3 linked regions of the Homo sapiens genome follow. The protein of the gene in region 1 interacts with the protein of each later gene in a biochemical or structural test. Each region holds a gene or a part of one and is shown in the gene's direction. Other genes may lie near its edges.

What was found.
Region 2: of the proteins of PTPN22 (region 1) and LCK, one has a biochemical effect on the other in vitro, tested with the Homo sapiens proteins (3 studies listed by IntAct, with this or other methods).
Region 3: the proteins of PTPN22 (region 1) and ZAP70 form a complex in vitro, tested with the Homo sapiens proteins (one study listed by IntAct).

Annotation. Positions count from the first base shown.
Region 1 is NC_000001.11:113,868,677-113,875,522, reverse strand, and holds the start of PTPN22 (tyrosine-protein phosphatase non-receptor type 22), read left to right. Parts: upstream 1-3,810; 5' UTR 3,811-3,899; coding exon 3,900-3,986; intron 3,987-6,846. UniProt on the Homo sapiens protein: Acts as a negative regulator of T-cell receptor (TCR) signaling by direct dephosphorylation of the Src family kinases LCK and FYN, ITAMs of the TCRz/CD3 complex, as well as ZAP70, VAV, VCP and other key signaling molecules.
Region 2 is NC_000001.11:32,246,448-32,254,300, forward strand, and holds the start of LCK (tyrosine-protein kinase Lck), read left to right. Parts: upstream 1-4,817; 5' UTR 4,818-4,924; intron 4,925-7,853. Other genes in the region: protein FAM167B, read left to right, coding at 975-1,235, 1,924-2,154. UniProt on the Homo sapiens protein: Non-receptor tyrosine-protein kinase that plays an essential role in the selection and maturation of developing T-cells in the thymus and in the function of mature T-cells. Plays a key role in T-cell antigen receptor (TCR)-linked signal transduction pathways.
Region 3 is NC_000002.12:97,737,576-97,740,396, forward strand, and holds the end of ZAP70 (tyrosine-protein kinase ZAP-70), read left to right. Parts: coding exon 1-90; intron 91-181; coding exon 182-322; intron 323-419; coding exon 420-532; intron 533-725; exon of another isoform or gene 726-934; intron 935-1,799; coding exon 1,800-1,923; 3' UTR 1,924-2,285; downstream 2,286-2,821. UniProt on the Homo sapiens protein: Tyrosine kinase that plays an essential role in regulation of the adaptive immune response. Regulates motility, adhesion and cytokine expression of mature T-cells, as well as thymocyte development.

The DNA of each region.
Region 1 (6,846 bases):
CTTAGGGGTAAAGGTGAGAAGTAGAAAAAAGTGGTAGTAGAACGAACGAGGTCTGTAGGTGATGTGCTTGGATAGGTTGGGTGGGGATAGTTGACAGGGAGGGGCTTGGTGACAAGCTAAGGAATCTGGACTTGTTCCCGTAGATCATCAATAACTATTCTGATTCTTTAGCATTAAAGTGCAGTTTTAAGAACTTTCATCCAGCCTTGGTTAACAGGAGATACTAGAATGGAAACATATAGATAGGAAGATACTCTAAGTTTATTGCTATAGGAATCCGGGTGTGAAAGTGGGAATGGGGCTAAGTGGGAATGGAAAAGACAGGTTGAATCTAAAAGACATTGAGGAGAAATTTCCAATAGGCCTTGGTGATCAAAAGAATGCTTACAAAGGACTGAATGTTTCACAGACAGTATATATATCCCATATCAAATCAATGACCCTGGAATGTAGGGAAAGGCAAGAGTAGTGAAACTAAAGCTAAGGTTGGGTAAGTATCTTCTCCAGGGTAAAACATGTCTCCCCCTCATCTAAAAGACAGAAGGATGTTCTGAGAATCCTGAATGTTTTTCCTATTGAATAGTTTATCTTACCCTTGTAGTCTTCCCTGAAATTCTCCTCAATTAATGTTTATTGTAATCTAATTCCTGACCTCTGTGATACTGATATTTCCCCTTAAACTAGCATACTCCCCTCTTCTTGGAACAGGTGACATGGTGACCAGCACTCTTCTCTGTTGTGTTCTTCCTTCTGACCAAGCACTACAGCCACATGAGGCAGCAGTGAGATGTGGCCTTGTCACTCCTCTTCAGGTGCTTATCCACAATTTACTTCCCACAATTTACTTGATGGTTCTGGCAAAATGTTTGTGAGTCTTTTTTTATTGCATGGAATTGTGTTCACTTAGGTTTTATGCCAGACTGGTTTAAATGATTCATCATAAATTCTGAAACTCTTTTAGGTATTTGCCAACCTTTACTGCATGTCTTGTTTCCCCTCCCCAGCTCTTTATCTTCCCGCAAGATACAAATGAGTCAACACAATCTTCATCAAAAAGCATTGTGCTCTGTAGAAGGAAGTGTGATAAATTAAGTAGTAGCTTATTTTTTTAAAAAAAAAATAATAGCTCCAGCTACTTGGAAGTCTGAAGTGGAAGGATCACTTGAGCCCAGGAGTTCCAGACTAGTCTGGGTAACATAGCAAGACCCTGTCTCAAAACAAAACAAACAAACAAACAAAAAAACCCAAAACAAAAAAAATAATTAAAGTTTTTTGTTTTCTTCTTCAGTTTGTTTTTTGCTTGCTTGAGTGGTCTGCTCAGGAAATGGCCTTGTAGCTAAGTGGGTTTTGGGGGTTTGGTTATTTCACAATGTCTCTATACCTTTTGGGTTTACAGTAGAATAGATTGCTGCTTGCTTTTTTAAAAAAGTGTGAAGTTCTGCCAAGACACTATTTACAGATTCTTAGATTTTGAGGAAAGGGACTATGGAGGCATCTAAGCAAAATTTTTTTTGTTATCTCCTATTTATTTCTGTCTTCTCCCTCATTAAGAAGAAACAAGAAAGTTAGTAAGAGATTGTGCTGAAATATAGGCTTGAGAAAAATAGATTTAAATTTTATTAGGCAGGTTTGCCTCATCAATTAATAAAAATTAATAAAGTTCTAGTTTTGTGTAATTGAGGACATTCTAAGGGTACAGAGAAATTATAAAACTATATTATCTTCTTTGTCCAAACATAGAAAATCATTTTCCTTTTAGGATTATGCTTTGCTACTCTGCAATTAAGCAAGTTAGTTTGGAATGTTTTTATTTTTATTTTCTTTCCCAAAGTTACCTAAGGAGTGTTTTAATTTTTATCAGTAATCATGTCTGTATCTTTAGTTCTGAGTTGCTTTATTAACTGGCTAAGGATGTTTTTGTTTTGTTTTGTTTTGTTTTTACCATATTCTGGCTTTCTCAGTGTTGTATGCCAATCTCCTAAGACAATGTTTAGAATTTAGTGGGTACTCAATAAATTTGTTGAACAACTTAATGGATTTTTAAATGTTTATTTCTAATTTTAAAAACGGTATGATAATTTTAGAAAGCAAACTTTATCATAATTCTAAAATTATGATAATTTTAGAAAGCAAACTTACACAATTGATTCTTTTTTGCTTCTTTTAGTCTTTAACTATGTACACACTTTTACATGGTTTTAGTTATTACAAACTTGAAATTTTGTATTTTTATAAATCAAAGATTTCCCATATTTTATGTTTTAAAATAGCCAAAGTAAACATCACGTTACTTAGAGCAGCAAGAAATTCTCTCTTAATTCTAGATGGGGATAATTTAAGAAATATACTATTCCTAACAAATATTGCTGAAGAATGAGGGTTTATTTTAATTTATGTATACTGGGATTGAGTTTCTTAATTTGAAATATTGTCTTTAAGTTGTCTATAACCAAGATATCTCGATGATCTTTCTTTTTTTTTTGCAGTACTTAGTAAAGAGCATGCAGTATCTTTAATGTTCAGATTAAGCAGTGTTCAGAATCATGATATCCTGAAGGAAGTTTGAATAATGTTGCAAAACAGAAAGGATTGCTAATATCTTAAATAGAGGAAGTCCTAACAACACATTTCCCAGTTTTCTTCAGGATCAAGACTAATTTTGTTAACATTTGTTGAACTTCTGCCTTCAATAAAGATGATATACTGATTTTTGGATGTTCTCACACTGAATTAGGCACTTGGGTAGACTTGTACCCATTGAGAGGTTATGCAAGCTCAAATGTGGAAAGTTTTTCTAGAAGAGCCTGCCTTTCAGGGCCAAAATGCCACAGGCACAGCATAACTTCCTGAAACAAATTTATTTCCTAAGACATTGGTTGCAGAGTAGAAATGTGTTCTTTAGAAACAGTTCTTCAGGCTTTCTGCCCTAAAAGTTACAATGTTGTCAGCAAGGTGGTTGATTTTACTTTCTTTTTGTTCCATCACAGTTTACCAGCATTACATATGCAGGGTATTGAGCTAACTGTCTGGTCAGGTGCTCCTTGTGGGGGCCACTTGCTCTAGATCCTATATAGACCAACACTCTTAGTCTTTATATCCAGAACCCAAGTGAAGCTTCAAAGGTTACTGGGAGGGTTGAAGAGGTGCTGAAATCAACACTTCCCTTAATGGAGGTCAGCACTTCCCCAGTCCTGGGAGAGACACAGACTGTCAGAAGCATCTGACTTTGCTTCATTCAAAAGGGAGTTTGAGGTATATATAGCAGACTTAAAAGTTATGAATAAAAATACCTTCTGTGATGAACAGAAGTTTCTCATTGATCACACTGACAAGAAACCTTTCGATGAACAGTCCGGGTAGAAGACATGTCACTCACTCTAAACAGTGTCTGTCTTCTTTCCTGGGCCTAACTGAACTTTGCAGAGTTCATTTGGGACATAAGGAAACAGAAGGTGTCAACTTGGCCCTTGTGCTCACTGGGAAAATGGGGAGAGACAGAACTCATTCAGGAGACCTGTAATTCTGTTCTTTCTCTGGGAGGCAAGAAGAAAGGTGAGTTTTGCATATGGGTGATGGAATGGAATAATCTCAGTTAAGCAGACCACACTTTACGTTCTAGTTAGCCTCTTGTTTGTTAAAAATTTGAATTGTAACCAGGTTCCTTTGCTGAGAAGGAAGGCACTAGGGCCCTGGAGTGAGATGATGGCTGTGTTATGTGACCACAGAAGGTGGTTACGTACTAATTTCCTCTAGGGCTTGTGATGAAGTCAGTAAACCACAGCCTTCAGCATGCTCTGCTCAGGCGGCAGCAGTGGCTTTTTGGAGGTGTCTCGGCCATGACACACATTTGACATGCCCTCCCTCAACCTACTTATAGACTATTTTTCTTGCTCTGCAGCATGGACCAAAGAGAAATTCTGCAGAAGTTCCTGGATGAGGCCCAAAGCAAGAAAATTACTAAAGAGGAGTTTGCCAATGAATTTCTGGTGAGTCCTGTATGTGACCCTCTCAGGGTAGTTACATACACTATTTAACTGACTATGGGGGTCCAATTTTCCGAGACCAAATTGCTCTTGGGATAAAGTAAATATGAGACCTTGGCGGGGAAGACAGAAAAAAAAAAGTTTGACTTCTCTGAGTGGTTTGCATGTATTTCAGGTATTCTCTCAAAATTACTGGTTTTAATATTTTGTTTGCTAGTTCTTTGGAGTTTGGTTAGGAATCCTACAGAAGACATATACAACTCCAGATGTAAAAACACTAATATTAATTGAACATCCAGATTTCCCCAGGTATCTAAGTTGTGGTTTATGCTTTATATTACTAATTTTAATTAATATTAAGAAGAAAGAGACCAATGTTAACTTTTCATGCAATATTACATTTTTAGCCTCCCCTCTGGGATTCTATTTGGTTGACAAAGGTTTTTGAAGAGCACCAAAACTACCCACTGCCACAGTTTTTTTTGTTGTTGTTGTTTGTTTTTTTAAGATTCAGAATCTTACTCTGTCACCCAGGCTGGAGTGCAGCAGTGCAACCACAGCTCACTGTAGCCTTGAACTCCTGGCCTCAAGTGATTCTCTTGCCTCAGCCTCCTGAGTAGCTGGGGCCACAGGTGTGTATCGCCATGCCTGGCTAATTTAAAAAAAAATTGTTTTTTTCTTTTTTGTAGATACGAGCCTTGCTTTTTTGCCCAGGCTTGTCTCGAACTCCTGGCTTCAAGCAATCCTCCCATCTTGCCTCCCAAAGTGCTGGGATTACAGGCATGAACCACTATGTCTGGCCATCATTTTTCTTTTCTTTTTCATATGAAAAATATATTATAACATGTGTTTTTTCAATAACAGGGCTTCCTTAACTTCTTTTGCTTGGAGAAGTGGAATGGCTAGGATGGAGAGTAGAGACAAGTGTAGGTCAAGGAGAGAAACATGAGTACAAGGTAGCTTCAGGTTGGGTGGATTAGATTACCCAGAAGAACAGTGAATCTCCTTTGAGAGAACTGTGATTATTGATGCAATGGCAGCTGGGTAGGCCTCATTCACCCTACAAGCTGAGATATCAGATAACATAGGGTGTCTAATAGTACCTATCATGTATTTTAGAATGCTTACAGCTGGCGTTTCAGAGATATAAGAATTTTAAACCTTAGCTCTTCAGTTGTGAAGAAATGGGTGGAAAGAGGGGAACTGAAGTACAAACCTGAAATTAAATCATGATTTTTTTTCACCAAATTATGAAGTATTTGACATGTTCTTAAATCTCTCTGTTTTCTAACTTATAAAATGGGGATAATAATACATGTCCTACCTATCCTCACAGGATTGTTGTGATGATTAAATATCAATAACAATCATTAAATGTGGTCATTTATTGAGTACCATTTATTGAGCACTTAGTATGTACCAAGTTCAGTTCTAAGCACTAAAAATACAGCGGTGAACAAAAAGAACCAAAACCTTTGCCTCCTGGAGCTAACACTCTGGTACCGGATAGCAGATGTGAAAACACTCTGAAAGTCTTGAGTAATTAGATATTATTGAGTGATTAGATATTATGATAGGAACTCCGATGTCAGCTCAACATGGATAATCTTGTGGTACTATGAAAAATGTGCTCTCACTGCCACTGGCTGATCAGTCTGAGCCCCTCTGGTAGAGTTACCTGAAAGGAGATAAGTAGGAAGTTCTAGCACATGTGTATACATGTCCCTGCCCCTGGACTATAATTCCTAAGCCAAGGTAACCCAAGGCATAGATGTAAAAAGTGAGCTGAGGGGCAGTGCCGGCCTCTGTTTTATTTTGGTTGTGTTTTTTAAAATAATGTAGACTGGCCGGGGGCAGTGGCTCACACCTGTAAACCCAGCACTTTGGGAGGCCGAGGCGGGTGGATCACCTGAGGTCAGGAGTTTGAGACCATCCTGGCCAACATAATGAAACCCCATTTCTACTAAAAATACAAAAATTAGCTGGGCGTGGTGGCAGGCACCTGTAATCCTAGCTACTCAAGAGGTTGACACAGGAGAATCGCTTAAACTCGGGAGGCAGAGGTTGCAGTGAACTGAGATAGAGCTGTTGCACTCCAGCCTGGACAACAAGAGCGAACTTCTGTCTCAAAAAAAAAAAAATGTAGACTATATCCCTAATATTTTACCTTTTCTCAGCTAAAGTCATTATAATTTCTCACCAAAATATAGCAGCTACCTCCTAACTGGCTTCTCTGCCTCTAGCCTTGCCCCACCTTCAGTCAATTTTCAGTTCAACACCCAAGTGATCTTTTAATCATACAAATCTGGTCTTTTTTTTGGGGGCGACAAAGTTTTGCTCTTGTCACCCAGGCTGGAATGCAATGACACCATCTCGGCTCACTGCAGCCTCCACCTCCCTGGTTCAAGCGATTTTCCTGCCTCAGCCTCCCAAGTAGCTGGGATTACAGGCATGAGCCACCACGCCTGGCTAATTTTGTATTTTTAGTAGAGACAAGGTTCCACCATGTTGGCCAGGCTGGTCTGTCCAACCAGGTAATCCACTCGCCTCAGCCTCCCAAAGTACTAGGATTATAGGCATGAGCCACCACGCCCAGCCAAATCTGGTCATTTTTTCCCTGCTTAAAAACTTGTTATAGTTTTTTTTAGCTGCTTAATATTGTGCAATATAATACACATTTAGAAAAGTACATAAAACATTTAAGTATAATTATAAAGCAACCATTAGCAGTGCAACCACTACCCAAGTCAAGAAACTGTCAGACCCCCGAAGACCCATGCCCCATCAGGTCCCCTACACCCATCTGCCCCTGTCCTGTCCTACCCTGGCCAAGGGATAATCACTATCCTGACTTTTATATTAA
Region 2 (7,853 bases), about 82 Mb from region 1:
CCCGGGTTCAAGCGATTCTCTTGCCTCAGCCTCCCAAGTAGCTGGGACTACAGATGCATGCTACCACACTCGGCTAATTTTTTGTATTTTTAGTAGAGACGGGGTTTCACCGTGTTAGCCAGGATGGTCTTAAACTCCTGACTTCGTGATCCGCCCACCTCGGCTTCCCAAAGTGCAGGGATTACAGGCGTGAGCCACTGCACCTGTCCTTCTGTGTGTATGTTATGTTTGAAAACAAAGTTTAAAAAAGGGAACTGCTCTGGTTGAAGCCCTGGGAGGGGCAGGGAGATGGAAGGCAAGGAGCCCATCCACAGCTCTGTCCTTCTCCTGCAGGCAGCCCTTGAGGGCTCCTTAGAGTATTAGCTTGAAATCCTTCATCTGTCCCAACAGAGCTCTGAGAAGGTCAGTGACTTGCCCAAGGTTCTGCAGAGCCAGCACTAGAACTCAGGTCTCCTGACTCCCAGGCCAGGGCCCTGGAGGCTAGTCCTTTCCTGAAGGGCTGGTGTCACGAGTAAGGACAAGGGGTGGCTAGGCAGCCTCCTTCCTGATCTCAGCTCCCTTAACATGAGTCTTGGGAGGAGGGCCAAGACTCTGGTATGAATGATGCTTTTCTCATCCTGGAGCAACTTCCTTTCTGGGAATTGGGTGTCTCCTTCTGGGCAAAGACAATAAAATTCATCCAAAGGGCCAGAGGAGCAGGGTTCCTCCGGCCCCCACCCAGATGGGCATCACGTGGCTCCCAAGTTAGCAGTCCAGGAAAATTCCAGCCCTTGCATACTTGGCCTCACACACCCATCTGCTCACTCACCCTGGCACATTCAGCCCCCCTAACCCACCTTGAACATTGACCACCACACACTCCCTGGCACGCTCTTCTCACCCTCAACTTCTGCCACCTCTCCCTGGGCAATACTGCCAGCCTTTCCCTAATCTCAGAGCTGCAGCCCTGCCCTGTCACTCACCTCAAACCTGCCATGTCCCTGGGGCTACTGAAATTCCAGGCAGTGGGTGAAGAGGACGAGGAGGATGAGGAGGGGGAGAGCCTGGACTCTGTGAAGGCACTGACAGCCAAGCTGCAGCTGCAGACTCGGCGGCCCTCATATCTGGAGTGGACAGCCCAGGTCCAGAGCCAGGCCTGGCGCAGGGCCCAAGCCAAACCTGGACCAGGGGGACCTGGGGACATCTGTGGTTTCGACTCAATGGACTCCGCCCTTGAGTGGCTCCGACGGGAGCTGGTGAGTCTGGTGGGGTGGGCAGCTTTGCCCAGGGCCTTCAGGCTGGTCCTCCTTAGGGTCCAAGACCACAGGCATGGGGAAGGGATGAGAATGGACCCTGCCTCCAGCAACCGCCCGCTCCGGTGTCCTGGGCTGAGGAGCCGGGAATGGACTTGTCCAGTGTTGTATTCAGGGAGGCTTGCTGAAGAAGGATTCCATCCAATCTACTGACCTTGTGCTCCTGTTGCTTAGGGGACAGAGCACTGGTGTTGGGGGGTGTGGGGCACCATTATAAATAGGGAAATACACAGCCTCCCCTACTCTGGGACTTTCTATGGCCTAAAGATACAGCGAAGTGCAAAAGGAGGCACTGGCCATGCTGCAGGCAGATTCTGAAGAGGTGAAGTTTCAGTAGGTGGCTCCCAACTCAACATGTGCAAATATAAAGATACCCAGGCTCCAACACAGAGATTCTGCTTAGTTGATTTGGGATGGGGCCCAGGCAGTTGGATTTGCTTAATAATGACTCCTTAGCTGGGTTTGAGAACCACCAGGTGAAGCCAGATTGGGAGATAGGGAGAGATCAAGCTGAGGTGAGAGGGGGCTGGGGAGGACACAGTCAGTGCAAAGGCCCAGCGTTGCCAGGAAGGGAGAAACGGCGCGCGGCCGAGGGCCTGTCCAGTAGGCTCACGCCCCCTCTCGGCCGCAGCGGGAGATGCAGGCGCAGGACAGGCAGCTGGCAGGGCAGCTGCTGCGGCTGCGGGCCCAGCTGCACCGACTGAAGATGGACCAAGCCTGTCACCTGCACCAGGAGCTGCTGGATGAGGCCGAGCTGGAGCTGGAGCTGGAGCCCGGGGCCGGCCTAGCCCTGGCCCCGCTGCTGCGGCACCTGGGCCTCACGCGCATGAACATCAGCGCCCGGCGCTTCACCCTCTGCTGAGGAACACCTGTGCCCCCCGACTCCCCGCCCCCTCTCCCAATGCCGCTTCCCCTGCCTGCCTGGGAAGAGGAAAGGGAGGGGTGCCCCAGAGGCACCAGCTCCTGGCGGGGGAGGAGGAACATTCAGGTTTCTGAGAGCTGAATTCCAAGAGTGCAAAACCCCAGCATCCTGTTTCCTCTGCTGACCCAGCTGGGAGGGGGAGGAGGAGGAGCTCACACCCTCAAACTCCTCAATAAACGCTTTCTCTGGTTCCCATCAAGGTCTCTTGCAGTCGTTTATTCAGGCCCAAGGCCGCTATCTGAATGTCGCCTGTCACTGGGACCACCCTAGTTCACTGCAGGCCCATGGGAGGTGACTTAGGTAAATTGGGCTCCTGAAGAATGCAGAATCTGAGAGACATGGGTTCAAAGCCAGCTACCCCGTTTATTTCTTTTTGTTGTTGTTATTTCTTCTGCTTCTTTTTTTTTTTTTTTTTTTGAGGCAGAGTCTCACTCTGTCACCCAGGCTGGAATGCAGTAGCACAATCTCAGCTCACTGCAACCTCCGCCTCCGGGGATCAAGCGATTCTCCTGCCTCAGCCTCCCAAGTAGCTGGGATTACAGGCGGCCACCACCTCGCCTGGCTAATTTCCTTTCTTTTCTTTTCTTTTTTTTTCTTTTTTTTGAGATGGAATTTCACTCTTTCGCCCAGGCTGGAGTAGTGGCGCGATCTTGGCTCACTGCAACCTCCACCTTCTGATTTCAAGCGATTCTCCTGCCTCAGCCTCCCAAGTAGCTGGGATTACAGGTGGCCACCACCTCGCCTAGCTAATTTCCTTTCTTTTCTTTTCTTTTTTTTTTCTTTTTTTTGAGATGGAATTTCACTCTTTCGCCCAGGCTGGAGTAGTGGCGCGATCTTGGCTCACTGCAACCTCCACCTTCCGATTTCAAGCGATTCTCCTGCCTCAGCCTCCCGAGTAGCTGGGATTATAGGCACCCGCCACCATGCCCGGCTAATTTTTGTATTTTTAATAGAGACAGGGTTTCAGCATGTTGGCCAGGCTGGTCTCAAACTCCTGACCTCAAGTGATCCACCTGCCTGGGGTTTCCAAAGTGCTAGGATTACAGGCCTGAGCCACCGTTTATTTCTATTCGACCCTGAGGAGCTCCCTTAACCCCTGAGTCTGTTTCCTCACCTCCACAATGGAGATGCTGATTCTCACTCCACAGGCAGCAGATGTGCCTTACGGGAGATAGTGCACAGTGAGCGCTCAGTGAATATGAACTATTACTCACTCCCAGCGCGGCAGTCTTTCTACTCTGTGCTGAGACAGGGAGATGGACCGTGAAGTGTTCAGGCTTACATTGCAAGGGAGTCTGGGCCCTGCACCAGGCTTGGAGCTCCAACTCTAGGCTCTGTGTCACTGTGAAGGTTTTTCACTTTGTCTCTCTCAGCCTTTGTTTCTGTGTTACCCTCTTTGTCTGACTTTCCAACTCAGGCTTCCTCTTCCCCCCACCTATTTCCTGCCCCCACTTCTCTCTGCAGCTGAGGTGCACACAGCATCGCTTCCACCTCACAAGCCCCAACAATGCTCTGTGGGTTCCCCTCCCCCTACCAGCTCACTCAGGCAGTGACGCATGTGCACTTTCCTCCTGGTGGGGTCAAGGCCGAGTTCTTGGACCTGATGAGGCCACCTGGAGTTCCTCATATCACTGGTGACCTGGCCCTCAGCTAATGATGGGTGCCCCCTCAGCCTGGCCCCAGGGGAAATGGAAATTCTTTGCCTGCCTGCTGCTCGTGACAATCTTCTTGCCTCCTGCTTATAACAGAAAGTCCTGACAGTCTGTGGCCTGCACCTGGGGGCCTGAGCGGCCCTGTTTGCTCTGTCTTCCACCTGTTGCAGGAGATAGTGCCAAGCCCTCCACCTCTGCCAGGGGCTGTGGCCTTGCCTCTACCTGAATTCGAACTGTTGCCCTACTCTCCAACCATGATTAATGGGTGTTGTCCTGGCCTCTGACTACAGCAGGGGCCGTTACTATGCCCTCTTGAAGACATGAGGTTGTCCTGTCTGCCTCCTGAAACAGGCTGTTTTCCAGCATTCTGTCTGTAAGAGGGATGGTAGCCTGCCATTCACCTACCCTTGACTATAATAAAGCTACTGTTCCATGCCCTGAGATGACATGGGAATTGTTCTCTCGGCCTGACCTGACTGTAACATGCATGGTCTGCTCACCAGCTATTTAACAGGGATATTGTCCTCTCCTCTGACTCTGAACGATGCTACCTTTGCTGCCAGACAGAAACAAAAGGGTCTCTCAGCTGCAACGGTGGTGCTGAGGTGCTGTTTGCCTCTCACCATAAGCTGAGTGTGTGTCCGCTTGCCCCCTGCTCACTGGGCCCAAAGGCTGCCCTTGAATCTCTTGCCCAGATGCACCCTGGAGGGCAGAAGGGAGGGTCTATCAGACATCCTCCCCTCAACTTTAAACCTCCCAGTGTCACCCTGGGACAGTAGGGGAAGATGGACCTGGTCTGGAGATGTAGGGGACCCCCAGGGGCTGAGAGGCAGGGGTCTATGGTGGCAGGAAGCTTGGCGTGCTAGAGGGTTGTGGTTGGGCTGCTGGGGCCCGGTTGGCTGCGGAGCCCTCCGGAGGAGGCAGGAAGTCAGGGTGGGACGTGGGCGCGGGGAGACAGGTGGTGGCTACGACGGCGAAGGGAGCTGAGACTGTCCAGGCAGCCAGGTTAGGCCAGGAGGACCATGTGAATGGGGCCAGAGGGCTCCCGGGCTGGGCAGGTAAGGAGCGCTGGTATTGGGGGCGCAGGCGCCGGGGTGAGAGGCCTGATAGCAGACGGCTGCAGCTGTGCGGGCCCAGGCTCCCTAGGGATGCAGCAGCCCTTTGTGGCTGGGGAGAGAAGATCCTCGCTCAAGGTCAGGTGGGAGGCAGGCAGTGTAGCTGGGTCGCCTCTTTCCTGCGAAGCTGGTGTCGCTTGCCTCTGTCGTGCTGTCCACCAGTGGCCCCACCTGACTGGGAGCGTGTTTCCTGGACACCAGGCACATGGACAGTCAGGTGTTAAAAAGGCTTCCAGAAACCACCAAGCCCAGTCCCTCAGGCCATGAGGATGAGGCTCCTGAGGCCCAGAGAGAACAAGGCACTCACTGCCCACGGTTTCTCAGCAAGGCAGTGGCAGGGCTGAGAGTGATGGCTGAGGCTGTGGCCACCCCGCCTGGAGCAGGGTGATGGACAGGCTGGACTCAGAGGACCCAGGAATCCTTCTGGTTTCTGGGGCAGACCCCAGTGACAAGAATCTCCTGAGAAAGAGAGAGAGAGAGAGAGAGAGAGAGAGAGAGAGAGAGAGAGACAGAGATCACCCAAGGCATCCAGATGGACATGCGAGGAGTGATTTTAGCCTCAGCGATCGAGGGAAGAATCTCCTGATGGGCGTGAACTGATATGTGTGGGGGTGTCCATCATCTGGGATGGAGCTCCAGGGTGGATGGACATATCTGATCTGAGTATGGGAAGTTGGAAGTGAAAGAGAATGATGGGAGAAAGGAAGAGGAAGTACTATTTTTATCCCAGACAGGGGTGCAGTTGGTCCTGGGTGAGGAAGCGCTGAACTTCCATCTGGAAAGTCACCATTCCTGCCCCTGCCAAGCGTCACAGCAGGATGTCCTCCCCTCGCCCCTGGCTCCCTCCCGCTTCAGCCCTGCCTGTGTAGGGCCAGTTGGTTTTGCTGATTCCTGCTTCAAACCCCAGGGAGGTGGAGAGAGACTGGGGAGGCATAGTTGCTACCTGCTCACCTCCTCACTTTTTAACTCTGAGCCTTAATTTTTTTGGGAAGTCCTCACTCAGCCAGATTTCCAGGTTTCCCCTGCTTCGTTGGAGTTTTTCTTGACACACACTTTCCGCCTAGTCAGCTGGTCCCAGCCTTTCTCCTGTCTACAGCTCCAAGTCCTGTAGCCTCTTGTGGGGGCTAGGGAACATGGTGGCTCTCCTCGCACTTCAGGGAGGGTCATTCACCCTGGACAGGCATGAGCAGTTCCTTCCACCCAGCCCTATGCTGACAGACGAATCAGACAGGGTCCCTTGCTCTTGGGCCCCAGGAACAGAGGCTCTTCTCAAAGAGAGAAGGGCCAAGTGGACAAGGGCCAAGAACAGGCTGAGCATTGGTTCAGAGGAGGGGAGAAGGTGTCTCTTAAGATCTGGAAAGCTTCCTGCAAGAGTCAAGACAGTTCTGAGAAGGAGAAAGACCCATTTTCAAGAGTGCGTAGGACATGAAGCCAAGGTCACTATCCCTGGATTCTGTTCCTTGGGTACCACGAGGGCAGAGACCTCAGAGCAAGACCAAAGGCCAGAGAGCCCACAGGTGTGGTGTGGAGCAGAGAATGTGCATTTCAGAGACAGGCCGACCCAGTCACAATTCCGCTGGACCATTTCCTTGAGCAAGTGGCTTCATCTCTCTCTCTGAGCTTCAGTTTACTTATCTGTAAAGAGGCAATAATCAAGCTGGGCACGGTGGCTCACACCTGTAATCCCAGCACTTTGGGAGGCTGAGGCGGGCAGATCATTTGAGGCCAGGAGCTTGAGACCAGGCTGGCCGACATGGTGAAACCCTGTCTTCGTTAAAAATGCAAAATTAGCCGAGCGTGGTGGCAGGTGCCTGTAATCCTAGCTACTCAGGGGGCTGAGGCAGAATTGCTTGAACCCGGGATGCACAGGTTGTAATGAGCAGAGATCGAGTCATTGCACTCCAGCCTAGGCAACAGAGCGAAACCCCATCTCAAACAAAAATGCCTCCCGGGTTCAAGTGATTCTCCTGCCTCAGCCTCCCAAGTGCTAGGATTAACAGGCGCGCCACCATGCCCAGCTAATTTTTGCATTTTTAGTAGAGATGGAGTTTCACTATATTGGCCAGGATGGTTTCGATCTCCTGACCTCGTGATCCGCCCACCTCGGCCCCCCAAAGTGCTGGGATTACAGGCATGAGCCACCGCACCTGGCCAGCACATAGTAGGTGTTTAAGGGAGGTGGGGCACTCCCTCCCCCTGCAAATGATGCACCAAAGGGAGGGCTGTCCACACCCAAATTATGCCCACTCAGCACCTTGGTGGGCCAGTGAACCACCCATTCCCTCACACTTGTGGTGTGGCTTTGCAAATCAGCCTGTTTCCTGTATACAGTGTGAGGAGTGTGAGAACTCAGGCAGGCTGGACTCTGAGCGGGGCCATGGGATCTACTTTAGAAGAGGGTCTCTCACGCAGCCACACACAGACACACACACACACACACACACACAAGCCAAAACACCATACATATCATGGGAAAATCTACGTGTACAGATGTGTTCAGAGGCAGGGCAGGGGCTACACATAAAACACAGACTACATCCTATAACTCCATGCACACACCCACGAGCTGATGGCTTCAAGGCCAAGCTCAATTCAGTGAAAGTAATTCTCAGTGGGGTGGGGTGGGGTAGGTGGTGAGGAGCAGGTGGGACCAAGGTACCATCCAGTAATGGGGCCTCTCACAATCAACCTCAGTGTTGATTTTAAAGTATCTGGAGCTAGGGGTTTGAGGCTGCAGTGAGCTGTGATCGCTCCACTGCACTCTGGCCTGGGTGACACAGCTAGATTCTGTCTCTAAAAAATAAACACGGCAGAGTGCAGTGGCTCACGCCTGTAATCCCAGCACTTTGGGAGGCCAAAGCAGGTGGATCAC
Region 3 (2,821 bases), on another chromosome or scaffold:
CGCAACGTCCTGCTGGTTAACCGGCACTACGCCAAGATCAGCGACTTTGGCCTCTCCAAAGCACTGGGTGCCGACGACAGCTACTACACTGTAAGCCTCTGCCCCTGTGATGCCCGACTGGATGGGCTGGGTGGGTAGAGGGTCCCTGACCCCTGATCCAGCAGCATCTCCCCCTCCCCAGGCCCGCTCAGCAGGGAAGTGGCCGCTCAAGTGGTACGCACCCGAATGCATCAACTTCCGCAAGTTCTCCAGCCGCAGCGATGTCTGGAGCTATGGGGTCACCATGTGGGAGGCCTTGTCCTACGGCCAGAAGCCCTACAAGGCAGGCGCGGGCAGAGGCAGGTGGGCGGTGTGGTGGGGAGGGGGATGAGGAGGAGGACACTGGTCACTCACAGGTGTCTCTGCCCCGGCTTGAGCAGAAGATGAAAGGGCCGGAGGTCATGGCCTTCATCGAGCAGGGCAAGCGGATGGAGTGCCCACCAGAGTGTCCACCCGAACTGTACGCACTCATGAGTGACTGCTGGATCTACAAGTGAGTGCCAGTGGGGAGGGGACCCGGCTGGGCTGACCCCTGGAAAGTCCTGGTGCCCGATGAGTTGATGTCAATATAACTCTACCCAATGTCATCTCACCCAAAGCCCTTCACCCAGTTCATAGCCTTTGCAGCTGCCCCCTACCCCCACACCCAGCTCTCCAACACACCAGGGTTTGCTGTCCTGCTCCAGTGTGCCACACCCTGCCATCCCACCTGTGGGCCTGTGCCTCAGCATCTAAAACCTCAGCCATCACTCAACACATGGACCCTGCAACACGCAAACAGGTCCATACTCTGCTACTCAACCTATGACACTGACACTCAGGGCATGAGATGATTCTCCAGTACCCAACACTCCAGTCCCCACCAGCCAGCACACAGCACCCAACTACCAGACAGGTGAGCACTGAGGTACCAAATACTCATCTATTCCAGCCCCCACCTCTGCCTGGTTGAAGCCCAACCTTCAGACATCTCAACTCCTAACACCATCAGTATCCCAACTTCCCATCAGACAACAGGCAACACACCCCCAGACAAGCGGACGCCCTAGACTGCCCATGCAATGTGTGGACACTGTAACGCATGACCCCCCACCGGCCAGCACTTAGCATGCTGACACCCCAACACCCAAGCAGCCCAACAGATAGACACCCTCTCTGGCTGGCCCACCCTCCTGCGACATGTGTTAATTCCACCTCCATCAGGAAACACCCAGGGCACCACACCCCAGTACCCAAAGAGGCTAGCACCTAGCACCCCAACACAGTCCATGGATACCCCATGCACAGTACCGTTAATACTGCCGCTCCCCGCTGGCCAGACCCACTGCCATGCTCCAGGCTTCTGCTGATCACCAGCCTTGCACTCCCTCTCATCTAAGCCCCAGCACACTGATACCCTGGCCCCAGGTGCATGCACAGAGCATCAGCTTTCTATATCCCAGGTCCCCGTGGTCAATAGTTGCCACTCTGACACCAAGTCCACTCAGTCCCCTGAGTCCTCACTGGTCAACGCTCGGTAGAGGGGTCATCCCAGCACCCTGTGTGTGGGCAGCTCTGCCTCCTTAGGCTGTGTGGCATTGCCCAACGCTCTCACACCCCAGAGTCCTCTCCACCACCCAATGTCCCGCCACCCCAACAGCCCTGCTGACTTTCTGAGCCCCAAAAGTCTACCTCAGCCAAGCACAGTGCATGCCCACCCACTGGTGAAGCTGGGTCCTGGGGGCGTGGTCAGCAGCCTGGATGTACCCCACGCCCCACAGGTGGGAGGATCGCCCCGACTTCCTGACCGTGGAGCAGCGCATGCGAGCCTGTTACTACAGCCTGGCCAGCAAGGTGGAAGGGCCCCCAGGCAGCACACAGAAGGCTGAGGCTGCCTGTGCCTGAGCTCCCGCTGCCCAGGGGAGCCCTCCACGCCGGCTCTTCCCCACCCTCAGCCCCACCCCAGGTCCTGCAGTCTGGCTGAGCCCTGCTTGGTTGTCTCCACACACAGCTGGGCTGTGGTAGGGGGTGTCTCAGGCCACACCGGCCTTGCATTGCCTGCCTGGCCCCCTGTCCTCTCTGGCTGGGGAGCAGGGAGGTCCGGGAGGGTGCGGCTGTGCAGCCTGTCCTGGGCTGGTGGCTCCCGGAGGGCCCTGAGCTGAGGGCATTGCTTACACGGATGCCTTCCCCTGGGCCCTGACATTGGAGCCTGGGCATCCTCAGGTGGTCAGGCGTAGATCACCAGAATAAACCCAGCTTCCCTCTTGTCTGAGCGCCCTCATCTTTTCCGGGGTGAGGGTAGGTGTCAGGGGAGGGGTGGGTTATGAAAAGTGCATGGAGGTGACTGTTCTTGTGTGGACTGAGCCTGGAAGTGACCCCTGGGAAGATGGGGCTGGGTCCCACTCTCCACCCTAGGGACACCTTCATGTGAGTGAGCGGCTGGGGTGGAGTGGGGAACCTGAGGCCAGGCGGGTGTGGGCCCAAGGGCTGCGTGCCTGGCTGAGCCCAGCTCCCCTGTGTGGAGATGAGTGTGCCCCATGCCAGGTGCACGTTAGGATCACCTGGAGCTATTTTAACAAACGCTAACCCCCCCTCCCCCATCCAGCTGGGGTCTTCACCCCCCCAGGGGTGCCTTGCAAATCATGAGATACAATGCTTTTCATTGGTAGATGCACGTATTAGCTCCCGTATGAACCGTATTACTGAATTTGAATCTGAAAAATACCAAAATGCAAACATTGTTTTTAAATTAATTGTTTTAAAAGCTAATGAACGAATTAAGACAAATTGCATCAATTTAGTG